Homo sapiens: one gene and its partner. The protein of the gene in region 2 purifies or fractionates together with the protein of the main gene of each other region. This does not show direct contact. Each region holds a gene or a part of one and is shown on either strand. Other genes may lie near its edges.

What was found. Proteins that work in one complex are often made in the same cells at the same time.
Region 1: the proteins of ANXA3 (region 2) and SNAP23 fractionate together in Homo sapiens (co-fractionation; one large-scale study listed by BioGRID). This does not show direct contact.

What each region holds. Positions count from the first base shown.
Region 1 is NC_000015.10:42,505,634-42,509,133, forward strand, and holds part of SNAP23 (synaptosomal-associated protein 23), read left to right. Parts: intron 1-3,500. UniProt on the Homo sapiens protein: Essential component of the high affinity receptor for the general membrane fusion machinery and an important regulator of transport vesicle docking and fusion.
Region 2 is NC_000004.12:78,575,770-78,579,269, forward strand, and holds part of ANXA3 (annexin A3), read left to right. Parts: intron 1-3,257; coding exon 3,258-3,352; intron 3,353-3,500. UniProt on the Homo sapiens protein: Inhibitor of phospholipase A2, also possesses anti-coagulant properties. Also cleaves the cyclic bond of inositol 1,2-cyclic phosphate to form inositol 1-phosphate.

The DNA.
Region 1 (3,500 bases), on a different chromosome or scaffold from region 2:
CGACCTTTGCCTCTCGGGTTCAATCAACTCTCCTGTCTCAGCCTCCTGAGTAGCTGGGATTATAGGTGTGCATCACCACGCCTGGCTAATTTTTGTATTTTTAGTAGAGACGGGGTTTCACCATGTTGGCCAGGCTGGTCTTGAACTCCTGACCTTAGGTGATCTGCCCACCTTGGCCTTCCAGAGTGCTGGGATTACAGGCGTGAGCCACCGCACCTGGCCTCTTGCTTGCTTGTTTTCTTATCTCCTCCCTTCCTCCCTCCCTCCCTTCCATTTCTTTTCCTTCTTTCTTTTCTTTTCTTTTTTTTTCTTTCTTTTTTATTTTTTTTGAGACAGAGTCTTGCTCTTGTCACTCAGGCTGGAGTGTAGTGGCATGATCTCGACTAACTGCAACCACTCCCTCCCGGGTTCAAACGATTCTCCTGCCTCAGCCTCCCGAGTAGCTGGGACTACAGGCGCCCACCACCACACCTGGCTAATTTTTGTATTTTTAGTAGAGATGGGGTTTCACCATTTTGGCAATGGCTGGTCTTGAACTCCTGAGCTTGTGATCCGCCAACCTCGGCCTCCCAAAGTGCTGGGATTATAGGCGTGAGCCACTGTGACCGGCCCATTTCTTTTCTTTCTTTGGGGTCTTGCTCTGTCAGGCAGGCTGGAGTGTAGTGGGGATCATGGCTCACTGCAGCCCTGAACTCCCAGGCTCAAGTGAACCTCCTAACTCAGTCTCCCAAGTAGCTGGGACTACAGGCACTGGTCACCACACCTGGCTATTTTTGTTGTTACTTTTTGTGGAGACAGAGTCTTGTTGTGTTGCCTAGGCTGGTCTCAAACTAGCCTCAAGCCGTTTTCCTACCTCAGCCCTCAAAAGTGCCAGAGTTACAGGCATGAGCCGCTGTGCCTAGCCAATAGACTTCTTTTCATTTTCTAAATTAATGTAGATTATTTTCAGCTTCTGAAATAATAGAAGACAGTTGAAAACCATGATTACTGTGGTCTATTTCTCCTTCAATTTAACTGTCTTCTTTGAGTCTGTAGAAGAGATAAAATTTCATGGTCTTATAGAAAGCATCTGAAATTTTGAAATGAGCCATCATATAGGATTGCTTGACCTATTTTCCAATATTCAGCAGCTCTCATATGATCTATTGTTTGTTAAGGGGGCGGTGGATACAGTCAACAGAAAAAACTTTTTTTTTTTTTTTGGAAACAGGGTCTTGGTCTGTTGCCCAGGCTAGAGCACAGTGATGCCATCTCGGCTCACTGTACCCTCTGCCTCCCAGGTTCAAGTGATTCTTGTGCCTCAGCCTCCTGAGTAGCTGGGACTACAGGCATGCGCCCCATGCCCAGCTAATTTTTTGATTATTTGTAGAGAACGGGTCTCACTATGTTGCCCAGGCTGGTCTTGAATTCCTGGCCTCAAGCAGTCCTCCTGCCTTGGCCTCCTAAAGTACTGGGATTACAGACGTGTGCCACCACTCCCAGCTCCAGAAAGACTCTTTATCAGACCATGAATTATACTTAATTTGCGAGTAGATCCCGACTTGAATAATCAATCTGCTCTTTACTGACACAGCCGCCTTGGGTAAGTTACCTAAACTGAGCCTTAGTTTCTCCATCTGTAAAATAGTATAATGAAGATAATGATGTAGATAAATACTTAGTAGGGTATCTGGTGCCTAAGAGGTACTCAGTGAACTTTTCTTTCCCTGCCTAGGTTTAAATTAGAAAAGAAAAAGGTCAAATTAGGAGTCTTTTAGTAAGCCCAAGTGAACCATAGCATGAGAAATAGGGTGTAAAAGCACTGAGAAAAATCTTGCATTTTCCTCTGAAAGGCACACTATTAGCATAGTATAAGTTCCCAGCAGCACTGGAAAAATGACACAAGTATTTAATAGATTAGATTAAATCTGAGAAAAGTACGTTTAATGGCATCTTTGTATCAACTGATGTTTTATTTTTCATCCCACCCCACCAGTTCTCTTTTCTGTAATATTCTGGGTAACCTTTTCCTGATTCCGTAAGGAAAATGTCTGCAGAGAATAATAAATATGAGTAAGGCTATGTAGCTAATTATAGGTTACATTCTCTCTGACTCGTCTCAGCAAACTTACAAAGACCAATAAGAACTTGAGGAGTATTATTCCTTGTCTGTCTTTGTCCTTCCCCTTACAATTCTACTTTGACTCTGTTACTTTCATATACAGTTGACCCTTGAACAACATGGGCTTGAACTGCGTGGGTCCACTTATAGGTAAATTTTTTTTTCAGTAAATACAATCAGCCCTCCGTATCAGCAGGTTCCACATCTATAACCAAATGCAGATAGAAAATATGGTATTCAGCCAGGTACGGTAGCTCATCCCTGTAATTCCAGAACTTTGGGAGGCTGAGGTGGGAGGATTGCTTGACCCCAAAAGTTTCAGAAGTTTGAGACCAGCCTGGATAACATAGTGAGACCCTGTCTCTATAAAACAGCTTAAAAATTAGCCGGGCATGATGCATGCACCTGTAGTCCCAGCTATTCAGGGGGCTAAATGGGAGGATTGCTTGAGCCTGGGAGGGCAAGGCTGTAGTGAACCTGATTGCACCACCGCTCTCCAACCTGGATGACAGAGTGAAGCCTTGCCTCAAAAAAAAAAAAAAAGAAAGAAAGAAAGAAAAGAAAATACGGTATTCATACATGCAAAACTCCCGTCTACAGAGGGCGGACTTTTATATCTGCAGGTTCCTCAGGGCCAATTGGTATCCACAGGCAGTACTGAATCCAACCCTCTGAGCGACAGCCACACTAAACTTGTGCTCAAAACCCTCAAGAACACAGAGTAATCTTAGGCAGCTGCATCCTGGCGTTAGCATGCCAAACTTGGGAGTAGATATCTGTTACTTGTCTTGCGTGTTGTCTGGTCAGGGAAGAAAAAAATATTAAGCAGAACTTCGAGTTCACATGGAAAGGATGTGTCCTTCAGAATGACCTCATTGCGATGTCAGGGGTGATTCCTCACGTTATCCATCTCCCAGTTATATCTGCTTTCTTTTTTCTTTTAAAGAAGGCAGCACAGAGGTCAGGAGTGCATTCACTCCTAACTCTGGAGTTTTGCTTTTTTTTTCCTAGGAAGCTAGCAAAGACTGACTTGTAATTGGCAATAATCACCTCTAGGAATAGAATTACAAAATTACATAATTTGTGATATTTGGGCTTCCTTACCCCAGAATGTCTCCCGACCCACAGGATACTATATCTGAAAACCTCACTAAGGGTGCCTTTTCCAGGCACTAATGGATTAGTGTATATTATTTTTCATATTTTCTTCTCTGTCGGGCATTGAGGAGTTACACATGACAGGAATAGATAACTTCAGAGCATTACTGCCTGGGGAGGGCAGGCTTTGGAGAGGTATCTCGGTTGGGGCTTTAGGAAGTGATGGAAAAGCATGAGGCTACCTGGGCAGATGTGGGGTATTATAGAAAGGAAAGGTGTGCAAAAGTGTGGAGGTGAGAGG
Region 2 (3,500 bases):
TTATGCTTATTGAATCTTTTCTATAACGAAGTCATAAAGTTAGATATTCTCCTACTTTTTTTTTCAAAGTTTTGAAATTTTATTTTTCGTATTATGATCTTAAATCTACATGGAATTAGTGTTCATGGATGGTATTTAAAGGTGTCTCATTTTATTCTATTTCATGTGGACATTTAATTGTCCCAGAACAATGTATTGAAGAGCTCTTCCTTTTCACACTGATTTGTACGTAATATCACCTATGTTTTATGCTTCCCTATTTTTCTCTTCTCTGTTATGCTTCATTTATCTATTTGGCCCTCCCAACACCACATTGTCACAATTATTAGGATTTTATAATGACACTAAATATCTACCAGGCAAGGTCTTTCTTGGCTCTTTGCCCTCCTCTATGAATTTTAAAATCAGCTTGTCAAATTCAATAAATATACTATATTAGAACTTTATATCAATATAATATTATGTTTTTTCTGCCTGTTTGAGGTTTATTTTTTCCATTTTTCAATGTAAGTTATTTCTTCATTTATCTCTTGATTTCCTTATTTTTTTTTTAAGAGAGAAGGGCTTGCTCTGTCACCTAGGCTCGAATGCAGTGATATGATCACAGCCCACTGCAGCCTCAAACTCCTGGATCCTATGGCCTCAGCCTCTGGTGTTGCTAGGACTACAGATGCTCATCACAATGTGTACCTAATTTTTAAATTTTCTGTAGTGACAGGGTCTTGCTATGTTGCCCACGCTAGTCTTGGACTCCTGGGCTCAAGTAATCCTTCTGCCTTGTCCTCCCAAAGTCCTGGGATTATAGATGTGAGTCACTGCACCCAGCCTGATTGCCCTATTTATATCTAGTGTTGAATAGACTGTTTCATGAGGTTAATAGTCTTTAAATTCTGTCACCTCTTTTTAAACATTATGTTTCTTCATGAATTTGCACTTTGGCTTACAGGCCTTCTTTAAGAAGGAGGTTATTGTTTATGAGCACCACTTCTGATAGGTTCTGAGTTCAGAATGAGGTATCATAACGGTGTTTGCATTAGGGATGGGTCAGACACAGTCTCTGAACCTGAGGCATCTTGGCTTAGTTTTTGATCTTGGGCATGTTTAAAAATAAGAGATGAGAAACTGCCAGGCATACAAACTACACATAACTGCAGGTAGTTTGGTATAGTTGTAGTCTAGGTGCATAGGTTATAGAGATGCAGAGAGGGGGTAGAAAATGAGAACAAAGACATAAGGCAGGAGAGATCATAATGAGCTGATACATGAGCTAAGGGGCTTAAACTTCATCCTGAAGATTACAAAGAGCCATTAGAATTTTAGCCAAGGGGGTGACATGATCAGATTGTATTTTTAAACATTTACTTAGGCAGTAGTTTACAGGAATAATTATATGGGAGTCACATTAGGAGGTGATTTAGGTTATCCAGGTAAAATATGATAAGGACACAGGAGCAGAGGGCATGCAGAGGAGACGACAAATTTAAGAGATGCAGATAATTGCTATAATATAGAGAATAAGATAAAGAAAGGAATCTGAGATGATTCCCAGGGTTTTTGCCTGGATGACTATATCCATAGTTGTGGATGAGGGAACATAAAAAGAAAGACAAGTCAGAGAGGAAATACAATAAATTCCACCCAGAATGTGCTGAGTTTCAGATACTTGTGCAGTTGTGGTGGCCGGTAGTGTACTGACACAGATGCTGGGTACAATACACAGCACCAAATTGGTGCTCAGACCCACAGAGCACAAATACACTTTAATCTGATTCGGTATTTATTTAACTATGTGTAAGAATACAAAACCAAAGACACAGAAAGGCAGCATCTTTCATTGGGAGGCCCAGCAGCTAACCAAGTACACAGAAGCTTTTGCTTCATCATTGATGTAAGCTGTGTACCACTGCCACGGAAGTGTGTAGATGAGGTCTGTGAGGGTCACCTTGACACAAAGAAGTTGAGCATTGAGTTCCAGGTGCTCTTTTATACCTCTCTAGTCATGCATGCTCTAGGCCTGCAAGCCAATTCACAGCTTCCCAAACCAGGTATCATCGTGGGTTGGGAAATTAATTAGACACAACTTTCCACGTTTTTCTTACTACTGTAGTCACCAAGATAAGAATGACCTTGAGGTCATTCTTAGGCAGGCCAGCATCAGCTCTGGCCTGATGTTACCTTTTGCTTACAAACAATTCATTTTGTATATGGGTTTGAAATTTATGAGAGAGGCCGGGTACGGTGGCTTACCCCTGAAATCCCGGCACTTTGGAAGGCTGAGGCGGGTGGATCACCTGAGGTCAGGAGTTCGAGACCAGCCTGATCAACATGGTGAAACCCCATCTCTACTAAATTAAAAAAAAAATTAGCTGGGCATGATTGCACATGCCTGTAATCCCAGCTACTTGGGAGACTGAGGCAGGAGAATCGCTTGAACCCGGGAGGTGGTGGTTGCAGTGAGCCGAGATCGTGCCATTGCACTGCAGCCTGGGCAACGAGAGAGAGAGAAAGGGCGAAGGGGAGAGAGAGAGCGAGAGAGAGAGAGAGAGAGAGAGAGAGAGAGAAAGGGAGGGAGGGAGGGAGGGAAGGAGGGAGAGAGGGAGGAAAGAAGGAAGGGAGGGAGGGAGGGAGAGAGAGATGTGGAAGAAATGCATGAGAGAGATGTGGACCAAAGATAGAAATATATGTTTTGGGGTCAGAGATTTGGGTTCAACTTCTTGCTGGACCACTCAGCAGTTGTGTGACTTTGGCAAGGAAGATAAGTTCGTGTCTTCATCTTTAGTACAGCGGGCCCCTGTGAATATTAACTATGGCAATGAATAAAAGGGTGTTTCATGCAGGGCAGATTTTCAATAAGTGTTGGTTCCTGTTTTCCAGAGGAAGAAATATTTTGATATCAAGTATGGGAGAGAGATAAAAGGCAATAAGACAGTAACCAAACCTCATAAAGGTAAAAAAGTCAAGTTCAAAAGTAGTAGGTTGTTTTGTCTGATGTACAGAAAGGAGTATTTAGACAATGATTGTTTCCTTCCCCCCAAAACTATCCAAATAAAGTTAACTTTTTTTTTCCAAAACTCAGGCAAACAAAATAAATAAATAAATAAATAAATAAATAAATAAATAAAATTCCAACCAGATAAGATGCTAGAAATTAAAATGCCTTACTCTCTGCATTTGTCTCAGGCCATTGATCATTTTGCTTTTGTTCAAGACAAATGTTGAGCATAAATATTGAGTAAAATAACTTTTGTTTCATTTAGGAACTGATGAGAAAATGCTCATCAGCATTCTGACTGAGAGGTCAAATGCACAGCGGCAGCTGATTGTTAAGGAATATCAAGCAGCATATGGAAAGGTAAGGTCACATTAACATGACAGGCAGTAAAGAGATCATTAATGTACCATGGTCGCTCCCACATGGTTATGCCCACAGTCTTCTGTTTCAGGCTGAGTGTAACAGAAGATGCCCTGTGCATCCAGTCAGGAGCCTGGAATCTGAGTCG